3 separate regions of the Homo sapiens genome follow, and all the other regions are linked to region 1. The links come from fine-mapping of genetic effects on gene expression. A gene starts in region 1. Each other region holds a variant in brackets. All regions are shown on one strand. Distances are from middle to middle.

What was found. PIP is the estimated chance that this variant, and not a neighbour inherited with it, causes the effect.
Region 2: its variant is fine-mapped to the expression of TST in whole blood (TOPMed, PIP above 0.99).
Region 3: its variant is fine-mapped to the expression of TST in monocytes (Fairfax 2014, PIP 0.95).

The regions. Positions count from the first base shown.
Region 1 is chr22:37,014,356-37,022,614 of GRCh38, reverse strand. TST (thiosulfate sulfurtransferase) reads left to right here and starts at 3,168. Exons shown (of 3, transcript NM_003312.6): 1 at 3,168-3,215; 2 at 3,862-4,477. The coding sequence starts at 3,883. MPST (mercaptopyruvate sulfurtransferase) reads right to left here and starts at 2,873. Exons shown (of 3, transcript NM_021126.8): 1 at 2,743-2,873. The coding sequence starts at 2,778. RefSeq lists silencers at 2,557-2,876, 2,887-3,006, 3,037-3,426, 3,587-3,646 and enhancers at 3,120-3,621, 3,650-4,625.
Region 2 is chr22:36,865,977-36,873,976 of GRCh38, reverse strand. NCF4 (neutrophil cytosolic factor 4) reads right to left here. Exons shown (of 10, transcript NM_000631.5): 4 at 6,515-6,585; 5 at 3,435-3,562; 6 at 2,268-2,325; 7 at 1,552-1,650. It overlaps NCF4-AS1 (NCF4 antisense RNA 1), which reads left to right and starts at 3,534. Exons shown (of 2, transcript NR_147197.1): 1 at 3,534-3,884. RefSeq lists an enhancer at 1,646-2,184. The variant T/C (reference allele first, on the strand shown) is at 3,697.
Region 3 is chr22:37,231,162-37,239,420 of GRCh38, reverse strand. It overlaps RAC2 (Rac family small GTPase 2), which reads left to right. Exons shown (of 7, transcript NM_002872.5): 3 at 6,503-6,620; 4 at 7,427-7,489; 5 at 8,031-8,190. Among named protein-coding and RNA genes, the nearest start is that of RAC2, 9.0 kb to the left of the region's middle. RefSeq lists enhancers at 1,031-1,709, 1,710-2,388, 4,669-5,168, 5,169-5,670, 8,158-8,259. The variant T/C (reference allele first, on the strand shown) is at 4,103.

The sequences.
Region 1 (8,259 bases):
AGGCAGCCTCAGGATTTGCAGCCAGAATTTGACCCCTCAGGCTGGACTTCCCCTGCCCCAGGTGCCATGATGACCAGGGCCTAATGAGTTCTAGGGTGACACCCTGTGCCCACCCCCACAGTCTGGCCGCAGCTGGCTTTTAGGAACCTACTTCACCCATGCGGTCAGGCCTTGTGCCGGACACCGAGGCACTCTTGCCTTTGCCAAGCCCTGGGGGGAAACGTCAGGCTGCAGGCAAGAGAGAGTGAAATTGAGGATAGTTTAGAATTCAGTGTTGAGCACAGAGGGCCCCTATGTTTGCCTGGGGTGGCAGCAGAAGAGGTGGGAAGGCTTCCTGGAGTAGGAGGAAGTCCAGACTAATCTGACTTTTCCAGGGGCCCAGGAAGCCTCAGCACGGTCTTTAGGGTAGGGAGGCTGCCAAGGGGTGTTTGGCTAAGGGGTGATCCCCATTATCTGCGTTACAGCACAGCTAGGGGGCGCTGTGCTGGCAGATGCTGCAGGTTCCTTCCTGAGGAACCCTATTGTGGGAACCACAGCAGCCCCTGTGCACCCCCAAACACTGTCCCCTATTCTTGAGGATCCTTGTTTCCCTCACCCAATCATCCATTTACAGTAGAAAGAGCCCTGGTTTAGGAGCCAGAGAGCCCCCCAAATCAATGTAAACCCCACTCCACTGCTTAACTGGTTGTGTGATGTGGGTGTGTAGGGTCTCTGGGTGGTTTCTGTTCCTTATAATGGAGCTTCTCACCTCCACCTCTTAGAGCCAAGATTAAACAATAAATGTAGAGGGGCAACCACCATGCATTACATCTGGCTGGTTTTAATAATCATTAAAAACGGTTTAGGTCGGGCGTGGTGGCTCACACCTGCAATCCCAGCACTTCGGGAGGCCAAGGCGGGCGGATAACGAGGTCAAGAGTTCAAGACCAGCCTGACTAACATGGTGAAACCTCATCTCTACTAAAAATACAAAAATTAGCTGGGCATGGTGGCATGAGCCTGTAGTCCCAGCTACCCGGGAGGCTGAGGCAGGAGAATCGCTTGAACCTGGGAGGCAGAGGTTACAGTGAGCCGAGATCGCGCCACTGCACTCCAGCCTGGGCAACAGAGTGAGACTCCATCTCAAAATAATAATAATAATAATAATATTGCATTATTTCTTCCATTACTCTCATTGGTGGCCCTGGAACTGCCAGCAGCAAATCTAAAATCTTAGAATTTCAGGGCTTGGTGGGACTTCAGAGATCTGAGGTCACCCTGCCCCAGTCTCCCTGCTTGATTGGCACTTCTCACAAAGGTCTGTGGGCCATAAAGGAGGGTGTGAAGGCAGGCTGTGGGTGTCAGGGAGGGGTAGAAACCAGGTGCCTGTGTGATTCAGAAGCCGGGATCACTGTAGGTGAGGGTGCCCTGGGAGTGGAGGACCCCAGGACGTAACCGCCCCAGGCTCATGTCAGAAGGATACACAGCTGCACTGAAGCAAGCGTGAGCCGCAGGCTGGATCCAGGGTACCCCTTGAGGAGCAGAGCTTGGGAGCTCCTCTTGGACCTCCCCAGCCTGGTCCCTCCTGCCCACCCCCTCCCCCAACCACCAGACACTAGGCTTTGAGGATTGCTGTGAGCATTTTAGAACAAAACCTTTTTTTAAAAAGAGGGATGAGGCCAGGGATGGTGGCTCATGCCTGTAATCTCAGCACTTTGGGAGGCTGAGATGGGCAGATCACTTGAGCCCAGGAGTTCAAGACCAGCCTGGACAACATGGTGAAACCCCATCTCTACCAAAAATTTAAAAATTAGCCGGGAATGGTGGCACATGCCTGTGGTCCCACCTACTTGGGAGGCTAAGGTGGGAGGATCGCTTGAGCCTGGGAGGCGGAGGTTGCAGTGAGCTGAGATGGCGCCACTGCACTCCAGTCTGGGCCACAGAACCACAGCCTGTCTCAAAAAACAAAACAAAACAAAAGGTCAGGGTTGGGAAACAGGGAAAGCTTCCAGGCTGGCCTCTGCAAAAGCTAGGGAGGGGCAATGGTGTCCCCCAGTTTGCAAGAGCCCATGGCGAGCTTTTCAGGAATTTTGCCAACTGGTTGTTAAATACAGCTATTATTAAAAATTGAATTACATCAACTTATGATTAAACGGGCTAAGTTCAAAACAGGCAATTTTTTAAAAAGCATGAACCTTCAGGGAAGAGCCAGGTAAACAAAGGCAGCTGGTACCACGTGGGCTTCAGACCAGGGATCAGGCCCGGCCTCAACTCTGGGTGTGTCCTCCAGCAACTCGCTCTGCCGCTCTCTCCTGTCTTAGTAAGTTTCTGGCCTACTCCTCAGGGTTATTGTGGGAATTAAGTCACACCACGGGAGTACCCAGCAAAGTGCCACACCAAGCAGGGCTGGACAATGTTAGTTCCTTTCACTCACTAACAAGTTATTGGCTAGTGTCTCTTCCTGGGGCCTCTGGGTCAGCGGGGTCTCGTCTCCCTGTCCTCCTCTCTCTCCCCCGCCCTCTCTGGTGCCACCAGGTCACCCACTTCCACCCAAGGCTCCCCACCCGCCACTCGCCACGACCCCACCCGGCAGGCCGCCCCAAGCGGACAGTCACCCTTAGTGCCAACGTAGCGGCGCGCCTTCTCTCCTAGACTAAGCCCCCTCTTCCGCCCAGGTCCCGCGCGGGAGCCCCGCGCCGAGCACCCCCAAAGAGCCACTCCCTCCCCCTCCAGAAAGGCAAGCCGCCACGCCGCGGCAGTTACCCGGGTCTCGGACTCCCGGCTTCCTGGCTCCGCCATGGCCCCCGCGGCGCGGCGCCCCCTCCCCGCGCCCGCAGCTGTCCCCTCCTCCCGCCACCAACCTGCAGCGGACCAAAGGGAGGAGACTCCGGCACAGCCCACCGCCGCGGCCACTCGGAGCCGCTGCTGCCCGCGCCTTCCACTGGCCGGGCCGTGGGGGTACGCCCGCTCCGCCCAGCCCAGGCCCGCGCGGCCCCCGCGCCACCCGGCGTCCCCCTCAGACCCCCGCGGGTCCCGGAGGCCCCGCGCGCGAGGTTGGCAGGTGCCGGGCGCGAAGCGGCCGCGCGGGGGAGGCGCGGGATGGCGGCGGGCGGCGCAGGGTCCCCCTCTGGCGGTGGCGCGATGGTGCGCGCCGCCTGGGGAGCTGCGGCCGGGGGTTTGAACCGGCCAACTTCTCCAGCCGGCCGGGGCGAGCGCCAGCGCGGCGTCCGGGGCGAGTGAGTGCGGGGCGGGGGCAGCGGCCGGGCGCCTGGGCCGCCGGTCGGGCCACCTGCTGCCCGGGGAAGGATAGCGTTGCGAGAGTGGGACGGGGTGCCCCGGGAACCCCTGATCCACCTAGGGCAGAGGGCAGCGAGCTACGGGCCGGACTCGGGCACTCTGGAGGCGGGCGAGCTCGGGCTGCCTGGGGAGGCCGCAGGCGATGGCGTGTGCGCGGCTCGCGGAGCTTCCTAGCCGTGCGCCCACCCCCTCTGCCTTGGAAGGAAAGGGGATTCTAAGCCCAAGATGCCATCGCCCCCCATCCCGGGCATGCTTTCATTGCTCTTTCCTGGCGGGATCGAGTACTGTAACTTCTAGGAGCCAGATCCCCGCCCCAGGAAGCGCCCCTACTTGGAGTCCTCGGAAACTCTTGCCCCACCCGCTTCTGCGCTGGGCCCCCGGGCCGGCTGGGAGGGGCGGGGCCGGCTTTCCAGAGGGAATCTGCAAACTTATCCCGCTGCACGCCCCAGCCTCGCTGGCTTGCTGTAAACAAGGAACCCGGGGGAGTGCGGAGGGAGAAAGAGCTTCTCCCAGGCCTCACCCTACTGCACACACCGACTTCCTTCCTCACGCCTGTCTCTCTTTCCTGGTTCCCACCCGTGCCAGGTGACACGCAGAGCTGAAGCCATGGTTCATCAGGTGCTCTACCGGGCGCTGGTCTCCACCAAGTGGCTGGCGGAGTCCATCAGGACTGGCAAGCTGGGGCCCGGCCTGCGGGTGCTGGACGCGTCCTGGTACTCACCAGGCACCCGAGAGGCCCGCAAGGAGTACCTCGAGCGCCACGTACCCGGCGCCTCTTTCTTTGACATAGAAGAGTGCCGGGACACGGCGTCGCCCTACGAGATGATGCTGCCCAGCGAGGCTGGCTTCGCCGAGTATGTGGGCCGCCTGGGCATCAGCAACCACACGCACGTGGTGGTGTATGATGGTGAACACCTGGGCAGCTTCTATGCTCCCCGGGTCTGGTGGATGTTCCGTGTGTTTGGCCACCGCACCGTATCAGTGCTCAATGGTGGCTTCCGGAACTGGCTGAAGGAGGGCCACCCGGTGACATCCGAGCCCTCACGCCCAGAACCGGCCGTCTTCAAAGCCACACTGGACCGCTCCCTGCTCAAGACCTACGAGCAGGTGCTGGAGAACCTTGAATCTAAGAGGTTCCAGCTGGTGGATTCAAGGTCTCAAGGGCGGTTCCTGGGCACCGAGCCGGAGCCGGATGCAGTAGGTAGGTGTCCCAGTGCTGGGTGGTCCCTGGGGAGTATTGCCCCATGGAAGGATAGGGAGTAAGGATGACTGGGACCCTCTCCAGGGTCCGTCCCATGCCTTCAATCCTCCCATGTAGGCCTCAGTCTTTCCATCGATAAAACCAGAAAGTGGAGACAAACCTAAAGGCTTTTTCAGCTTGGATGCACAAGGACCCAAGAATGTGTCCTCATAGCCATGTGCTAAGAAGCCACCTAGCATCTGTGTGAGCAGAAGTCACTGGTGACATGTCCACCACCTCCACTCCCAGGCACCAGCTGCCCCACATGTACTAGGATATACCTAAGGGTGTCATGCCCCTGAGCCAGCGTTTGCATTGCTGTACAGAAACCTCCCACGGACACATCCAGCTTCTCCAGGCCTCTCTCGTCCCGCAGAAACCCTTATAGACATCAACAGTGTCCCTCCCCGCAGGATCCCCCTCTCCCCAAATCTAGCTCTCCTGGGGCCCCTGCCTGCTGTTTGCAAAGGTTCCATAACCTTTCCAGGCAGCTGCAGCCCGTCGGCAGAGTTGTAACAGCAGCTGCCATTTCATGCCAGACACTTGGCACCGCATTATCTCAGCGAACAAAGCTCAATGCCCCTGTTTTGGCAGCGGGGGGTGGGGGGACTGAGATGCCAGGACATAAAGTGGTGGAAGGCAGGATTCGAATCCAATGCTGCCTTGTTTCAAACCAGGGCTATAAACCAGGACGCACCCAATGCTGCCCTACCCCTACTTCCCAGGGCCAGGAGGGAGTCCCCTCTGCTAGTTGCCCCAGGAAGGCGACTCAGAAGTTCCCCTCCTGTGGAAGGGAAGGCCAGGTGGATTGGATACTGCTTGAGGGTTGGGGAGAGCCTCAGGAGAGGAAATGCTGAGTTCTAGAACCTCCTAGCCAGACAGAACCTCGGAGGTCTTCCCTTTTCTAGAGGCAGGACTGCCGTCTCGCTGCCATCACTCCTGCTGAGTGCCCTCCAGTCCCTGCCTGGCCATTTCCAGGAGCAGGGCCCTCTCTTGTCTCTGGGCACCTCCTTGGTGGCTCTTTCCTCAGTCAGAGCTCCTTCTCTACAGAATCTAACTCGTGTGCAACATTTTGCCTGACTTGTTGAAAAACATCTCTTCCTGTCTGTACCTCCTACAGAGAGAATGCTGGGAAAACTGTTCTGCACACTCTTAGAGCTGGAGGGCCTGAACGGTGACCTCACCTGACAGAGGGGAGACTGAGGTGCACAGAGGCAGGGGCCAAGGCCGCATAGCTAGTTAGTGACAGAGCCAGGACAGCAGGGTCTCTGCCCTTTCCAGCGCAGCTTTTTCCAGGCCCCATATTTTTCTTGCCTGCTTGCTCTCTGAAGGTCTGGAGTTGAAGATTCAAGTTCATTTGGCACCTCCCAGAGAATCCTGGCTGGGAACGCCTGCAGCCCTCTCCTGGCCTTGGTTCAAGACGCCTCTTCTCCTTGGGATTTAAGCTGTCATGGGGGAGGATCAGTGGAATTGGTTCTCTTGCTGCTTCCCAGCCTGCCCTGAAGCAACCTAAGAAATAAGTGGAAGGGACAGCTTGGAGGTGCCAGGCCCAATGTCCTCACCCATTTTACAGATGAGGAAACTGAGGCTCAGAGGAGGAGAATGGCCTGCAGTGGGTAATGCCTCCTGAAGGCCCGGGATGCTGAAGTTCCTCCTCTGTAATTGTGTTCACACCTCCTTCAGTTTCCCTCAGGAGCATCAGGGAACATGGATTCTCATTTCAGCTCAGCCACTCCTCCTTGGAGTGACCTCAGTCCAGTTGCTTGGCCTCTCTGGGTTTCCTTATCATAAAATGAGAAGAGTCACGCCAGCCCTACCCACATGAGTATGCATTTGTTTAAATGTAGCAGTGGCGGCCGGGCGTGGTGGCTCACGCCTGTAATCCCAGCACCTTGGGAGACCAAGGTGGGCGGATCATGAGCTCGGGAGTTCGAGACCAGCCTGACCAACATGGTGAAACCCCGTCGCTACTAAAATGAAAAAAAAATTAGCCAGGCGTTGGTGGTACGTGCCTGTAATCCTAGCTACTTGGGAGGCTGAGGCAGGAGAATCGCTTGAACCCGGGAGGTGGAGGTTGCAGTGAGCCAAGATCGCGCCACTGCACTCCAGCCTGGGCAACAGAACAAGACTCTGTCTCAAAAAAAAAAAAAAAAAAAAAAAAAAGTAGCAGTGGCTGGAAAGGGATTTCAAGAAGGGTAAGGAACGATACAAATCCTGGAGGGTGTGGCACTTCCCCCCCAACCCCCTCCTCCAAGAGGCTTTGCTGGCCTCCCATACAAGATATTTTGGGGACACAAAGGCACATGAGGCTCTGCCAAGTTTATGGTTCCCAGCGTGGTGTGGGATCAGGGAGGCACCCTGTAGGTTCAGCGGTCCAGATGTAACACACAGGGGCATGGGGGTGGCAGACCTGGGGGTCAGGCATTGGCCCTGATCATCTCTGGAAGGAATGACCCTAAATGGAGCGAGAAGCAGAGCTTAGACACCTGGCGGCCACTTCCTGCTCACCTTAGGCAAGCGCCTTCCTCTTTGGCTGTAGTTTTGTGCCTCCACAAGCTCTTAGTCCTGGAGTCAGCCAGATCTGAGGTTCCATCCAGGTGTGATACTGATGCTTAGCCTCAGGCTAGTGCCTTCACCGCTAACTGTTGTTCGTGAAAGGAGCGCTGCTCACCTGAGAGGAGGGCTGGAGGAAGTGAGAGAGGCAGAGTAGGAGTTTATCCAGCCCAGTTTCTTTATCGACTTAATTTTCTTTGCCTCCCTTCTTGGAGGGAGTGAGGGTGAAGAAGGGAGGAGGGTATCGACCCGCTAATGAGCACTTTTATTTACAGAACGCTTTTTATATAGTCTCTTCTGGACACCTACAGCAGCCCTGCAAGGGGAGGCAGGCAGGGGTAGGTAGGCTGGGTCCCACTTTGTGGGTGGGGACAAGGAAGGGGCTTCTCTGTTAAGACAAAGTGGCAGAGACTTGACCCCAGGTCGGCAGGCTTCAAGTTGGGGCTGTTTCCCAAGGCTACTGCTGTGGGTGGGGTGAGCTGTAAGCAAGCCCAGGGGCTGAGGGAAAGGTCACGGCTCCATGGTGTGGCTCCCGGGCTGCTGTATGGGACTGAAAATCCACTCTGCCTATCTCTCCCTCCCAGGGCTGGGAGCTTGGCTGAGGGAGGAGGGAAGGTGCAGGGCTGCCTCTTCCTGGCTAGGGTTAAGGGGTTGCCTTCTGGGGCTGCCTGCTCTGGATTCCTTAGTAAAAGGAGAAAGCGCCAGACAGCTTTTCCTGGCCTTAAAAATCCACACCTACCAGTGGCCTGAGGGATGTTAACTCTAGTAGTTGAGTACAAGAGGTCATCTCATCCATTCCCCAGCCTCAGTCTCCTTTTCCAGGGAGGCTCAGGGTGGTCAAAGAACACAGGCGTTGGGGGCAGACCAATCAGACTTACCTTTGCTGTGTGTCCTGAGGCAAGCGACATCACCTCTCTGAGCCTGGGCTCCCCCAGCAATGCTGAGAGAATAATCTCCCCTGCTTTGTGAGGATTGAGGAGGATAAAATTCTTGAGAGCACCTGCTGTCAAGTGCCTGGTGCCGCAGGTTATGGGAATGGGGGCATGCCTGCTGGGGGCAGGGAGAGCCAGAAGCCTTCAGCTAGACTTGGGAAGAGAAGCATGGGAGCCTCTGCTTTCTGGCCCAACGTGCCTTTCCACCAACTGGCTGTTCTTTTTGTTTGTTTGTTTGTTTTTTGAGACGGAGTCTCG
Region 2 (8,000 bases), 150 kb after region 1:
AAAACAGAGCTAGGAAATGGCCCAAACAGGCTGACTCTGAGTTCACACTCTTCATCAGCAGCTTTTACTGCTGTGGGCAAGGTATGTACTGTTGTCCCATATTACACAAGTGGTTGCGATTTCACCCCTCAGGAGCAAATATCTGGAGAGCCATGTGATTGGTGCAATTTAGCAGTGCTGCTGGCATCTAGTGGAGAGGCCAGGGATATTGCTGAACAGCCTGCAATGCTCAGGACAACCCCACAAGGGACCATCTGGCCCCAATGTCAATAGTGCCCCTGCTGAGACACCCATTACAGACCAAGAAACTAAACTCAGTAGGTTAACTTACTTGCCCTAAGCAACCCATTTTTCAGGGTCAGAACCAAAGCATGAGCTCCAAGAATGTTCTGCTGCCACCGAACACCTGCCTCCCCAAAGGCTTTGTTCCCGCAGGCTCCCCAACCTGCCTGGATCTCCAGGGCTATCCTCAGATAGCATCTCTTCCCTGAGGCCTTCTGAGACCATCCTCAGTCTCTGAAGCATACAATGCCTGAAGCAACCTCACCTCCAGCCTCACCTCTAATCTCAGCCTAACCTTACCTGCATTCTCACCTCCATCCTCACCTCCAACCTCACCTCCATCCTTATTCCCAACCTCATCTCCAACCTCATCTCTAACCTCACTTCCAACCTCACCTTCATCCTCAACTCCAAACTCACCCCCATCCTCACCTCTAATCTTACCTCCATCCTTACCTGCAAACTCACCTTCCTCACCTCTATCCTCACCTCCATCTTTACCTCTAAACTCACCTCCAATCCCACTTCCATTCTCATTTCTATCTTCACCTCTAATCTTACCTCCAATCTCACCTCCACGCTCACCTCCATCCTCACCTCCAATCTCACCTCCATCCTCACCTCCAACCTTACCTCCAATCTCACCTCCATCCTCACCTCCAATCTCACCTCCAGTCTCACCTCCATCCTCACCTCCACTCTCGCCTCCACCCTTACCTCCACCCTCACCTCCAATCTCACCTCCAATCTCACCTCCATCCTCACCTCCAGTCTCACCTCCACCCTCACCTCCAATCTCACCTCCATCCTCACCTCCAACCTTACTGCCAGTCTCACCCCCATCCTCACGTCCACCCTTACCTCCATCCTCACCTTCACCCTCATCTCCACCCTCAATCTCCATCCTCACCTTCACCCTCATCTCCACCCTCACCTCCATCCTCACCTCCAATCTCATCTCCAATCTCACCTCCAACCTCACCTCCAATCTCACCTCCAACCTTACCTCCAATCTCACCTCCATCCTCACCTCCAATCTCATCTCCACTCTTACCTCCACCCTCACCTCCAATCTCACCTTCATCCTCACCTCCAATCTCACCTCCATCCTCACCTCCACTCTTACCTCCATCCTCACCTCCAATCTCACCTCCACCCTCACCTTCATCCTCACCTCCAATTGCACTTCCACCCTCACCTCTATCTTCACTTTTAATTTCCCTCCAACCTCACCTTCAATCTCACCTCCATCCTCACTTCTGAACTCACCTCCAGCCAGTCTTTGTTGATCCGACTGAGGAGGAAGATCACATCTCCAGCTTTGAAATTCAGCTCCAGTTTGCTGTTTCCAGTGAAGTCAAATAGAGCCTGAGGAGAAGCGTGCAGTAAGGAGGGAAGGAGAGAACACTCACTGAGTTCCTATAGAAGTGCCTTACATACTTTAGTCTCCCATTTTACAGATGTAGAAACTGAGGCTTGGGGAGAATAAGCGACTTCTCTGAGGCCACCCCATTTTTTAGTGGAGGAGCTGGGAATTGAACCCAGGTCTCCCTGACTCCAGGATGGGTGCTCCTTCCAAACCTGGTGGGGGTGAGCACACAGGGAAGGGTTCGAACTCTCTGGGCTGAGCACCCACCCTGGTCCCCAGGCTTCATCGTGGGCTGGGCCTTGTCTGAGTCATCTCTGCAGCTTCCATGCCTAAGGCAGGGCTGACTCAGAGGAGGCCCAGGTAAACTGTCCGGATGAGCGTAGGGATGGAAGCATTCTCCTCTGGCTCCGCACGCTGGTCACATGCCCTCCCCTTAGCTGGGCTCGGGGGACCCCCAGTGGCAGAGGCTGAGGCTGTAACCCCTTCCTTCCTCCTGGTGCCCAGCACTGTCCCAGGCACACAGCAGCACCCAGCAGGAGAGGCCCAGTGGCTGGCAGGTGGGCCAAGGCAGATGCCCACAGTGTGAGAGCCTGGCCAGCGTGGGGGCGGGGGTTACCTCTGCTCTCGGAGCTGCCATGCGGTCAACGCTGTTGCCCTGTGGGGACACGCTCTTGCTGTGGAGAGAGAAGAGGGGCTTGTTAGCCCTGTGATTCTCTCAGGGCCCAGCTTCCTGCTCCTGTGTCCAGAGGAGCCCCTTGCAAGGAGCAGGGAAGGCAGAGGAGACAGAAGATGCTGAAATGTGGCTGCAATTGCTCCTCTGGGCGGGCACACTTGTCCCCAAATCCTCACAACCTCTTTGGAGGTGGGATTGTTCTCCCTTCTTTATGGACCAGGAAGCCAGGCTCAGAAAGCAGGTGGGGAAGGGGATACACGCTCATTCGGTGCCTTTCACTTGCCAAAGTGTTCAGATGTGTTTGTTCCTCTGCTCCCTACAACCAAGCTCTGATGTAAATGTGACTGTTTCTAATTTTTCAGCTGAGGGAAACTGAAGGTTGGAGAGGTGAAGTGCCTTGCTCTGGGGCCTGCGGCTGCCACATGGCACAGCTGGAATTAAGACACACCTGCCTGTGTGCACAGGGGAGATGCCAGGCATGGAGAGGACCCTTGGAGACATTGGTGGGAGGAAGCAGAGGGAGGAGCTGGTGGGGAGCTCAGGAGCTCCGTCCTGCTTTTCCCAGAATTCTTAGTAGCAGCAACCTGGGCTTTGGAAGCCCAGCAGTCTACGAGTGGCTTGAATTTTTGGTGGGAAGGATGGGCTTTTTGGAATAAGGGAGGAACAGTGTGCTCTGGAGGCCAGCATGATACAACTAGAGCCATAGCTGGCCCCATGGAGCTCCAACACACCAGGGAGAAGGCATTCCCAGAGATGCTCAGAGAATGTTTGTGGATGGGGCAGCTTTTCCCTCCTCTCTGCCCCCAATTCTTTCCAGGCACCCAGAGCTTCTGGGCTATCCCCAGTAGTTGCTGTGGCACCAAACTCTCTGGAGTCAATATCCCAGTCCTCGTCTTCCAATCCTTATTATCACATTGAAAGGCACACACCCTCTGTCCCTCCAAGCCTGAACATGACTTTCTAAACCCATCTAATAAATCAAATCATCCTGGAGTGTCCAGGGATATGGCTGATCTGTATTTTCCTTCTCTCCTTTCAGGGAAAAGAGATGCTTTTCCAGCAGGGACCCAGGGCTCTGGCCATGTGGAAGCCCAGGGGCTGGTCACTTACACTTTCCGGGTGCGCGGGCGGAGCCGGCGGAGTGCCTGGGGCACCTGCTCTGAGTCATAGGGCGACTGGTAAAAGAAGATCCGGACGTCCTCATCCATCAGCACCCAGACCGGCAGGCTGAGCAGGCTCTGTGTGGGTGAGACAGCAGAACCGGTGGGGTAGTCAGCAGAAAGATCTGGACACCCCAGCCTAGATGTCCCGTCCCCGAGCCCTGACATCAGCCCTCCTCTCTTTACTAATGCATGATGCCTGATAACAGAAA[T/C]GCGTTGTTTAAAAGAATAAGAAAACTCAGCATGCTGAAGGTAACACTTCACAAGCTCTGCTCCTGGGTCCAAGGTCAGGAGAGGGACCAGGGGCTTGAGAAGAGTCCATTTGGAAAAGACTTAAAGTTCTCCAGAAACAGCAGTAATGGTGATGACAACTAACATGACCCGGCGGTGACTTTACCAGGTGGGTATCACATGCGCGCCCTTGCTCCATCTCATGACATCCCTTGAGTTAGGATCAGAGAGGTGAAGGGATATGCTCAAGGCCACAAAGCCTAGCAAGGGACAGAGCTGGGGCACCCAGAGCCATCTGCCACTAAAGGCTACCCAAAGCTTAAGGTGAGACAACAGTTGGCGGGGGTGGGGGGCTCCCAAAATAACCCAAATTAACAACAGTTGGTGGCATTATAGCCTACAAAATGCTTCCTGATACTTTATCTCATATCATAGTTGAGGAAACTGATGCTTGGAGAGGGAAAGTACCTGGCCCAGAGGAGCCGAGCTAAGTGACAGGGCCCGGACTTGAGCCCTAGTGTCCTTGTTTCATCCAAGCTGGTTACACCCACCACGATGCAAAGACTTTGAAGCTGTGAGGACGCGAGCACCCAGAGCCTGGCGGGGTCATCTCACCAAACTCCAAGCGCACAGGTCTGGGGACACTGAGGGTTGGCTTTGGGTGCTGAGGCTCCAGAGGCACCCAGAGCCCTGCAGAGGATCCCATGGGGGCAGCAGGATGAGGTGGGGTCGGGGAACTTTGTCCGAGAGGAACTGGGGATGCAGAGCCCGGAAAAGGCTGTCATATGGGGACAGCCTGGGAGGTGTTTAAGGAGCCAGGGGCTCCTGGGATCGAATCCCAGCTCTGCCTGTCACCAGCTGGGTGGCTTTGGGCAAACCTGGCTCCAGATGGTCATTAATAAAATGGGGACAATAATAGCCTCTCCCTCGTGGGATTGTGTGAGAATTAAATGAGTAAATACATGCAGAATCCTTAGAACAACACCAGGCATATACCAGGTGCCCATCAAAGTTAGATGTCATCATTGTTACTGTGATTTTCATTACAACGAGGCACAGTGGGTAAGAGCTCAAACCCTGGAGTCACAGAGATGTGAATTCAAATCTCATCCCACCTACCTAACTGCTCTGTCACACTTAACTCACAAGTTATTGAGGGGATTAAATAAGATTATTCATTTATCAATAAACGTGTATCAAGAGTCTCCTGGTTGCCAGTCAAAGCTCTTCACGCAGTTCCAGGCAGTTGTCATTATCATGTGATTCACATTCTTCATGAGGGCGGGGTGAGACCAGTGGGTAGGACTTACAGAGAGTTGGGCTTTTCTCATAGCTGCCCAACAATGGGACAGGCAGCCTGGGTCAGGGCGGAGTGGTAGTGAGCTCCCCATCTCTGAGGGTATGCAAGCACAGGATGGGGTGGCCATGGCAGAGATTCCTGCCCTGAATGATCTCTGGCTTCCAGGAACCCAATTGGACACAAAGAGGCAGAGATGGATCCTCTGGGCTGCTGGTTGCTAAGACCAGGTGTGGAATGAGGAGCCCCAGTTCCCCAGCCTCGCCTCCTGCCTTCTCTTCCTCCTTCCCTCCCTCCCTCCCTTCACAGCCCACTCCCCTATTCTAGCCCAGGGGGAGAAGGGTGGAGCCTCAGCCACCCTGAAGGAGCAGCTGGAGCCCACCCAGCTCCCCTCCCTCCCTCTTCCCTGCTCAGAGCCCAGGATTCCTGCAGCTACCTGCTCTCTCCTCCTTCCTCCCACCTCCTCTGCCCTCCATCTGCTCCTTCCCTCCATCAGGAGTCAAGATCTCTCACATTCTGGAAGCAGGTTCACAGTTTACAAAGCACTTTCTCATCCTGTTCTCGACAGATCCCAACTTCACTCCTGTGATACTAGAGGGCACTGCCCCATTTCACAAGTGTGAAAACCAAGGCCTAGAGAGGATGGGCAACTCACCCCAAATCACCCAGCCAGTCAGTGTCAGAGTCAAGACTAAAGGATCCTAGCCCAGCGCTCTCCAGCTGTGAGGATGCCGCTGGGCTGGGAGGAGGGCTTCGCTTGCCAGCTTCCTGAGGTCACTATCAGGTCTCTAGCGACGGTGCACTCACTGCCACCTCATGAGGAACACTGCCCCTTTCCTGGATGGCTGTGGCTGGTGGAAGTCCTTTCCTGACCACCTTGGCCTCTGCCTTTAAGATGCTCCTTCCTCTACGCTCCCATCTCATAGAGATGCAGAGTTTGCAAGTCGGAGAATACACAAGGGCCCCCAGCCAAGACCCATGAGTGTAGCTAAAATCCAGCCCATGTTCACGTAAGGGAGTGAGTTGTCCCAGAGGAGGCCTACTCTAGTTTGCACAAAGATGCTATATGAGCAACCTGCGGCCTGCTTGGCCACACCCCCATGATGGAGGCACACATATGTCTCCGTGTGATCTTATGATCCACCTGTTGGCATTCCCATAGGACAGTGGGTACCTTGGGGGCAGACACTGGATGGAATTCACCTTTGTATTTTAACTCCTGGCATAGACATTCACCTGTGGGGCTTGGAGCATTAAATGAAGACTTGTCAATTCCTAGTGTGGCTCTTTTACCTTCTCCGTTGCTCCTGCTCCTATCTCTGGAACCCTAAGGACGCATCCTGTTTTACTCCCCAGACCAGGCCTTTAGGGATTGAAGATGGGGCCATCAGAGCCAGAGAGCCAGCCCCAGTTCCCAAAGCCATACCCAGGGATGGTACGTGGGCTCCCCCACCAATACTGCATGCCCTTCCACGTGCCAAGGTGGCAAGGCCCACTGGTACCTTCATGTAGGCGTTGAGGGCAGGTATCCGCATCTCGGCGATCTCCTGTTTCACACCCACGTAGACTTTGGCTGAGAAGAGACAAAGAGCTGTCCTAGGAGCCTGGCCCAACATGGCCCCGGGGCTCAGGGCTGCCCCTACAGGCCAGGAACCCTGGCCAGAGCCCCTTCCCGATGGCTCAGCATTCTTCCCTGTTATCTTTTCACAGCACTGAAGTGGCCACTCTGGCACCATCCAACTTTCATCCTCTCAGTTGTGCTATCACCAGCTGATATTTTTCTTGTCTTACTTTTTTATTTACTGCCTGTTCATCCAAGCGCACACACACACACACACACACACACACACACACGACTCTTAGTTCTAAGAGAGCAGGATTTTCACCTGCTTGGCTCACAGCTGTACCCCCATCACCCAGGACAGTGGCAACACCGGCTGCACATTCAAGCTACCCAAGGAGCTTGTAAATATCTCACTGTGTAGCACTTGCCCCAGAGCAATTAAATCAGAATCTCCGGGGGCAGGACTCAGGAACCAGGATTCTTTCCATCTCTCAAGGCACGTCCACATACCACCAAAGTTAAGAACCATGGGTCTAGAATCATGCCCAGATGAATGAGCATTTGTTAAGTGGATGAATGAACAATTCCTCAAGCTCAAGGCAGATGTTCTGGAGGAAAAGGAAATATGACGGGCTACCAAGAGACAAATGTCCCCTCCAGGTGCCTTCATGTGGGCGCACTGGTGGAACCATTCACCAAGAGAACCCCTACGAGGAAGCAAGTCTGAAACCTGCCTGGCTCCTGGTGTCCAGGAGATGGACAGAGGTGATGGCGGCGGCGGTAGGAGGGTCTGGGCTAGAGCTAGACATTGGGAGTTAGGAGCAAAAACGTGACAATTAAGTCCCAGACATGGGTCAGTTTGCCAGGGTGAGTGTTTGGAATGAGAAGACAAGGCAGGGGAGAGAGGATGTCTGCTCAGAGGATCCCCACCTTCCAAGGAGCAGCAGAGAAGGTTGATTCTGTAACAGAGAAGCTGAAGGAGTCTCTAGTAAGCTAGGAAGGGGATTGGGAGACACTGGTGCCTCAGGAGGTTGGAGAAAGCTTAACAGAGGAAGGAGTGGGGGTGTGAAGATGAGGCTTGGCACTGGCCATGGAAGCCAGAATTGATGGGTCATGGCCCACCTCACCGAGAGGAATTTCAGTGGAGTAGTCAGAGCTAAACCAAGCTGAGGAGTTAAGGAGAGGATGGCCATGCCAAGGTGAGACAGTGCGTGAATTTGATGCCAAAGGAAGAAGAAAGAGAACTTTGGGGGCCCTGGGGGCACGGAGGCTCAGGGAGGCTTGTAAGAATGCTGTTTCATGGCTCAGGATTGTTTAAAGACAGAAGAGGGTTGAGGCTGTGGAGACGCTTAGCAGAGGGAGTTGGTATATCAAGAGGAAGATGAATATACAAGGAAAAGGAGGGGTAGATTGTCAGGAGAGAG
Region 3 (8,259 bases), 220 kb before region 1:
ATTGGGTGAAGGTATCCCAGTAGGGCCAGCTCTATGCGTGTGGCCACCTATCCAATTGCACAGGGCCCCATGCTCAGAAGGGTCCTGCACCTTGTTTAATACTCTGATGTCTACATCTTGAAATTCTTAATCATTTTTGAGCATGGGCCCTGTACTTCCATTTTGCACTGGGTCTTGCAAGTTCTGTGGTGAATCCTGCCTCACACCCTCATATGGCTTCAGGCACAAAGTTTCTCAGCCCCAGACGAGACCCCAGAGCGGGATCCTGCTACTGCCAATGCCTGTGCCCCTGTGAAGGGAGGGTAAAATAGTCACACTGGGCCCTTGACATTGGAGGGGGAAGAGGGAGAGAAGGTGGGTTGGGAAAAACAGGCAGCCCCAAATCTCTGGCACCTGAGATTAAGGTGGAGAGAGCTTCTGGGCTGAGGATGGTAGGTTTGCTGGGGGTTGGGGAGGCCCCTGCTGCAGATACAAGATCAGATAAGCCTGAGAGCTGGCTCCCCATGCTGCCAGCCATGAGGGGTTAACAGCAAAGGGATGGACCTGAACCTTCGGAACTGACACCTTCCTGAGCAGCCAATCAGTTGCCAGGACTCGTGGGGCTGCACCGTGATTGGCTCTTGCCGCCTGCTCTGTTGTATAGACCCTATATTGGAGCCGGCAGGGCCCTGTGAGTTCTTTGCATCAAATCCCCCGTTTCGCAGATGGGGAGCCTGAGTCTGCTCTGTGGATGGCCCCGTGCTAGGTGTTGGGGATACAGAAACATGGCAGGAAGACAGTGCCCTCGTGTGCCTGTGGCATAGAGGGGCGCCCCCTTACACCTCACCTCGTTAGAACCAAGCTCGACGGAAGCCCTGGTGAGCTTTTAAAACTGAAAGTTAGGCTGGGCGCCGTGGCTCATGCCTGTAATCCCAGCACTTTGGGAGGCTGAGGCAGGCAGATCGCTTGAGCCCATGAGTTCGAGACCAGCCTGGGCAACATGGAGCAGAAACCCCATCTCTACAAAAAATACAAAAATTAGCCGGGCATGGTGGTGCATGCCTGTAGTCCCAGCGACTCGGGAGACTGAGGTGGGAGGATCGCTTGAGCCTAGGAGGGTGCGGCTGCATTGAGCTGTGATTGTGCTACTGCACTCCAGCCTGGGCAACAAAGTGAGACCCTGTCTCAAAAAATAAAATAAAATAAAAAGAGCCTCCCAAAAAACAACTGAAAGTTAACCTGGCCTAAATCTCTCCTGTGGCTCCCTTCACACTTAAAACTCATCTTAATGCGCAAACCGTGAACAACAGCCCCCGTCTCCCCAGCCTCATTTACCACACCCCTTACCCACTTCACTCCAAGTACACAGACTGCCTTGATGATCTCTGCCTCCCCCGAACCTCTTCACTCCCCTTTATGACACCCAGAACCCTCCCTGCTTCCTGTCATTCAGTTCCCTGCTTAAACATCGCCTCCTTGACCCCCTGTCTACAGCAGCCCCCCGTCTCCAACCTGCCCTCTCCATCCCACCACCCTGCTTGGCTGTCTTCATAGGCCCCCCGACAGCCCGACTTCATCTTGCTGCTCCTTTGCTGCCACTCCTCCTCTTGGATGGAAGCTCCCTGAGGACGGGGCCCTTATCTGCCTCACTCCCTGCCATCGCGCCAGTTTCTAGAACAGAGCTGAGCCCATTCCTGTTGCTCCGTCATGACTGCCTCCCCGACCCCGGGGAGGAAGGCAGGGCTCAGCTCTGCATGGAAGAATGTGTGCTGCTAATTGAGGTTGAATCATTTGGCACTTAATTTTCACTTTCATTTGAAATCCTCTCTTCGGTAAACTGGCGAATCCAGCCTGGGATTCCAGTGGACAGGATGACATCAGCCTCCCTAGCTGTGTGCGCCAGGCCCCACCAGGTTCTGCCTGGCCTCTCGGCAGCCCCATCCCTGCTCCTGCCGCTGTGTGTGTGGGTGCCTCATGATGTCCAGTGGCTCAAGCCTCTGCCTTAGCTCAGGCACCCCTTCTGTTGGGTATTCTGTTCCCTCCTGCTCCACCTCTCCCTGCCCCGTGACACCTCCAGCTGCCTTCATCTTTCAACCAATAGCACGGTAAGGGCCTCCCCTCCTGGCTGATGTGCCAGTTTCCCCCTCTGTTCCCCTCTGGCCCCTCCCTAAGACTTCTCCAAGAGGGTCCCTCCCTCCCTCCCTCCTTCCCTCCCTCCCTTCCTCCCTCCCTTCCTCCCTTCCTTCCTTCCTTCCTGACGGAGTCTCGCTGTGTCACCAGGCTGGAGTGCAGTGGTGCGATCTCGGCTCACTGCAACCTCTGCCTCCCGGGTTCAAGCGATTCTGCTGCCTCAGCCTCCCAAGTAGCTGGGACTACAGGCATGCACCACCACACCCAGCTAAGTTTTGTATTTTTGGTAGAGACAGGGTTTCACCATGTTGGCCAGGATGGTCTCGATCTCTTGACCTGGTGATCCACCTGCCTCAGCCTCCCAAAGTGCTGGGATTACAGGCGTGAGCCACCGTGCCCAGCTGGGACCTTTTATAAATGCAAATCTGATCTCATCACCTCTGCCTGGCTTGGCCCCTTGCTGGTTCCCCATTGCCCTGAGAACCAAGACCTGACTGGTCCGTGCCCCTATGACATCAATCCTTTCTCACCCCCAAGTCACTAGCCATGCGTGCCCTGTGGTCTCTGGGTTCCTTGAATGCACCATCCTTCCTCCGTGGGGGTGGGCTTCGGTGGTGGTCAGGTGATACCTGGGTGCTGGGGCCCCTTCCACCTGCCCCATTCCCCTCCTCCACTCCATTCTAGGGCCAGGCCTCAGAGTTCTACAGGCACTAGATGAAAACATGGTCTCTGCTCTCTCCAACTCCATTTCCAGCCATGAAATAGCAGCGATGCTTACCATGTGGGCCTTTCTGAATTGGGTAACAGGATCTAGCCTTGCTCTGCCACCCACTGGCTGGGAGATCTTGGGCAAGTCCCTTCCTCTCTGTAAGCCTCAATTTCTTCATCCGGAAAATGGGGTGAGGGTTGCCCATGGTGGTCTGTGCATAAGGTTCCTCTCTGGTCCTGGCTGCCTGTGGGTCTCTTAAGTAAGGGGGACCCTCAGGGGTGTCACACCATTGACACATTCCTGCACCTGTCCCTCTGGTCCTCTGGGGAGGGGCCCTGTGGCAGGGGCATTTGGGGACATGGAAAATGAGACTGCTTAGCTTCTCAGCATCTCCCAGTGGGGTGGCTTGAACATCCTCTGTTTTTTTGGATTCTCCTAATGGCTCCAAGAAATAGGTATTTTCCCCTCCACATTAAAGAGATTGAGGCTCAGAGAAGTTAGGTCACTCACCCAGGGTCACACAGCCAGGATGTCCTGGCTTCCCAAGGAACTCTGTGTTCCCGCCCAACAAGAAAGGTCCTTGACCTCTTCAGGCCTCAGTTTCCTCATCTGTCTAATGGGGGTAACTTAAGATCCTTTTGTCTTGGATCACATGAGACTTCAAGACCTAACATACAAAGACCCTCAGCCCCCTGCCTGGCCTCAGAGAAGGTGGCTGTTGCTTCTCAAGGTCCCAGCTCTTTCCCCATCACCGTGGCCCTGAGATTCCAGGGATGACCCAGAGGAGACAGGTGAATCTTGTGGGGCTTCTTGGCACTAGCACTGTGGCTGGACATTAGAGGAGAGAGTGTCCAAGCATTTCCCAAAAGTGTGTTTCTGGTCAAAACTGGAAAAACAACACAGGTGTGGCTTTTCCCATCATGCCTCACTGTGTCTCCCTGGACAGCGCCTTCTTCCTGAAATCCCACAGCAGTGTAGGTGGTACCCAGAGTAGGTGCACGCCAGCACCTGCTGTGCACCAGACCGCGGGCTGGCCCCAGGGTGCAGCGGCAAACAAATGAGGCTTAGTGCCTGCCACCTGGGATGCTGAGTTCCCCAAGGAGTGCTGGTTTAGGTGGGGTGGTAGCCCCGACATGGCTGGAAGTCAGGAAAGGCTTCTTGGAGGAGGTGACATTGAGCAGGGGCTGGAGGGATGAGTAAAAGTCAGCCAGCCTGGCAGTGGGGAGGAAGAGAAGGGAGAGAGGAAGGAGAGTGGGAAGTCAGGGGCCACTGTTTGCAGGCACT[T/C]TCCAGACAGGCGGGAACAGGGCCGTTTGAGGAACTGAGAGGTAACCAGGAATTCTGTCCAGGGCTGGACAGGCAAAGTGTATTAAAAAGGCTGGGCTGCCCACTTTTTGGGGGTGTGGGGGACTCCTCTCAGGAGAGGTGTCTTTTGTGTTACTCTGAAGTGTTAGCGCTTCTGCAGCCTAACATTGAGTAGCGTTCTCTGAGGACTTCCTGGAGGAGGTGGTTTAATTCCCTTCCACCTGCATTCACTGGGTGACAGGCCTGAGACTGTGGAGAATAAGCAGGCATCGGCCTGGCCCACACAGAACCCACAGCCCTTGAAGGGGTGGAGACTCACCAAGTGCCTGCTCGTGGTCCAGGCAAAGTAGTCACCTGAGAGAGGGAACCATGGGCTCTTTACAGGTAGAGGACGACGAAGCTCCGCCAGAGAGGAGGACTTGTCTGGGCAGGGTTTTGAAGCATGAATAGAAGTTGGGAGTGAAATGGGGCTGGAAGCGTATTCCAGAGGGAGATACAGACAGGATCAAAGGCTTGGAGGGCTGGGCAGCCTGGAGGGTGTGGGGGCCAGAGACCAGGTTGGTGAGAACATATGGACAGCTAAGGTGGGAAGGACATTCTGGGCAGGGGCTTTGTGTGGACCAGCACAGGGAGGTGGGCAGTGTGAGCCTTTCCCGGGAAACGGCTTGGCTGGTGTGCGAGGGGAGGAGTAGGAGGAGAAGTCAGAGGAGCCGGAGGTCTCAGTGGACCAGGTCAGGGCCTGTGTGGGGGACCACAGCGGGAAAAGTGACAGTGATTCCCTAACCCTCAGGGGCAGGCGGTGAGGGCATTCCCGGAGGCACAGCTGTGGCCTGGGGCAGTGAGCACTGGTCGTGGTCACTGGTTTCTGGTTTCTTACCTAGTTGGGTCACTCACTGGCTGTGTGGCCTTGGGCAAGTCACTGCATCTCTCTGAGCCAAGTTTTCCCTTCCACAGCGTGGGTAGCCAGCACCTTCCTCGCGGGGATGTGTGTAGCAAGAACTGGCTTGCAAAACCTCCCCTATTCCGAGCTTGGAGCCCTGGGATGGCCCTCCCAGCATTCGTTGGGCTTCCCCGTCTCTGATATTTGTCAGGCCCCTCACCCCGTGTCTGGCCTTCCGCCAGCTGTGGGGGCAGGATCAGGCATGTACTCCTTGGTGGCCCCAGCGCTGGCTCTGCACCCGATGCATAGTAGGTGCCTAGCAAGTGCATCTGGAGGCTCGTTCGATGGCCCTGCAGGGCTCTCTGGGTCTGGCGGGAGACATTGGGAGTCAAGGTCAGTGCCTCACACCATCTCCTCGGCAGCATGTGTCTTTCTACCGTTTGCCGTGGCCCTTCCCATGGCCAGTGACTAACAGCTTTCACGCACACTCTGGGGTGGGCTGAAAGGCCCCGGAAGCAGCCCTCTTTCCCTGGAAGATGGGAGATGAATGACAGCACCCTAGCTTCCTGCCTTCTCTGGGGACGCCCTGAGCACGGTCCGTTCTGTCTCCCAGGTGGCCCCAGCAGGACTGAGAGCAGCAGCAGTCCACAGCCATGACAACTCAACCACCTGCCCTGTGTCAGCTGCTGTCCCCTCCTTTATTCCTCCCCACTCCCCTTCTGCAGCATCCTGGAGTCACTTCCCGAATAAACCCCTCACATCACCTCCTTGTCTCAGGGTTTGCTTCTGGGGGGACCCAGCCTGAGACGGGATGAACATTCATTCGACAAAATATTGCGGCTGGGCGCAGTGGCTCACGCCTGTAATCCTAGCACTTTGAGAGGCCGAGGCGGGCGGATCACTTAAGTTCAGGGGTTCGAGACCAGCCTGGTCAACATGGTGAAACCCTGTTTCTACTAAAAATACAAAAATTAGCTGGGCGTGGTGGTGCATGCCTGTAATCCCAGCTACTTGGGAGGCCGAGGCAGGAGAATCACTTGAACCCAGGGGGCAGAGTTTGCAGTGGGCCGAGATGGTGCCACTGCACTCCAGCCTGGGCGACAGAGCGTGATTCCATTTCAAAAAACAAACAAACAAACAAAAAACAACAAAAAGCAAACATTGAGTGGCAGCATAGGGAGAGAGGTAAGTTTATTCTCATCAAGACTGGGAGGAAAAGTTACACAGCCTCAATTACCTTTCCAAAGGACAGGTACGGGTAGGAAAAGGATTAAGAGACAATCTTTTTTTCTTCTTGTTAACTTGTATTACATTTTTAAAAAATATAATGAATCAGTAATGAAACAAATAAAGAAACCCAATTGCAAATGCTGTGTGACTTTGGGCCAGTCGCAGACTGTCTCTAGGTCTCAGCCTCCGAGGAATGACATGGAGCTGGACCACAATTCCCAGGTTCTGGGGTTTGAGATTGACCTTACCTCCGCCTTGCCTGCTCCCCACAGGTTTGACAACTATTCAGCCAATGTGATGGTGGACAGCAAGCCAGTGAACCTGGGGCTGTGGGACACTGCTGGGCAGGAGGACTACGACCGTCTCCGGCCGCTCTCCTATCCACAGACGGTGTGCTGCTCCCACCTGCCTTGCAGTCCTGACCTTTGCTGTCTCTGTTCCCTCTGCTTGGGATGCCCTTCCAGCCAGCTCAGCCTGGGAAACCCTACCTCTCCCCTTAAGGCCCAGCTCAGGGAGTCTGCCTGCCTTGCATGTCCCAGGCAGAGAAGGGCTTCCTCTTGCACTCCCTCAGCCCTGCATTGGTTCCCGGTCCTCAATGTGCCCATCTTCCCACCCCATTGCCTCCTGGGCTCTGGCACCCCCTGTTTCCAGTGGTGGGGCAGGTGGATTCTGCACAGGGCCCCAGGAGGCAGCCCAGCATGGTGAGCCCTGGGAGTGCTGGGGGAGGGGAGAGGTGGAGGATGCCTGCAGGTGGCTGCTGGGTCCTCGCCCTTCCTCCAGGGTATGCAGGGAGGCGGCTAAGGCCGGTAATCAGATGGTGGATAGTATATGGATTGGAGTATGGACTCTAGAATCCCAGATCCTCCCCTCACCAGAGTGCACGTTGGCAAACTCTTTAACCTCTGGAAGCCTCACTTTCCCTGTCTGAGGAATGGGGCTACCAGCAGTGCTTGCTGCAGAGTGACATGTGAGGATAACCACTTCGCAGAGGCCCTGGCCTTTAGTGAGCGTCCTAACAAACAGCAGCCTCGTGGTAGAGGCGAGAAGGGTATCTCTGCTCTGCCCAGATCCTAAGTCCCCAGCATTCCCTGGGGTGTTCCACCCTCAGGGAGCCCCAAGCTCCACCTCTCGGTGGCTGCCATGGTGGGACACCTCTGGGCCCTCCTCACTAGCAACCTCGCTTGCTCTGTCCCCAGGACGTCTTCCTCATCTGCTTCTCCCTCGTCAGCCCAGCCTCTTATGAGAACGTCCGCGCCAAGGTGAGCTGGACAGGGTGGGCCTTGGGGGCTCTGGGGCAGGTAACCCTGAGGGACAGAGGGAGGAACTGGTGACTCTAGGCTGGTCCCTGGGGCAGCAGAGGTCGCATACAGAGAGGGTCCCCAGTGCCAACCAGGGCTGGCAGAGGGACTTGAGGGGGTAAGATTCAGAGGACCTGGGGTGGGGGGTGCTGCGATAGTTAGCTATACCCCCACTTTCCATGGCTGCATTCTCCTCCTCCCCACACAACCTCATGTCCGCCTCCGATTGTCACATAACCTCATGTTTGCTTCTTATGTCTGCACAAAACCTCGCCTCCTCCTTTCCTACAATCATGCGCCCCCTCCTTCCTGCACAACGTCGTGGCCTCCCCTCCCTGTGCCACCTCACGTCTCTCTCTCCTCACCGTCGTGCCCACCTCTGATCTTCTGGCAACTTGCTGCCTCTCCTCTCCCTACACCCTCACACTCCCTCTGATCCCCGCACAGCCTCGCGCCCCCTCTTGACCCATACAACCTTGTGTCCCCCCACCCACCTGCCCAGTGGTTCCCAGAAGTGCGGCACCACTGCCCCAGCACACCCATCATCCTGGTGGGCACCAAGCTGGACCTGCGGGACGACAAGGACACCATCGAGAAACTGAAGGAGAAGAAGCTGGCTCCCATCACCTACCCGCAGGGCCTGGCACTGGCCAAGGAGATTGGTATGGGCCTCGGGCTCAGAGGGGCGATCTGGCTGCAGGGGAGGCCCTGACTTGGCCTCGTGGTGTGAT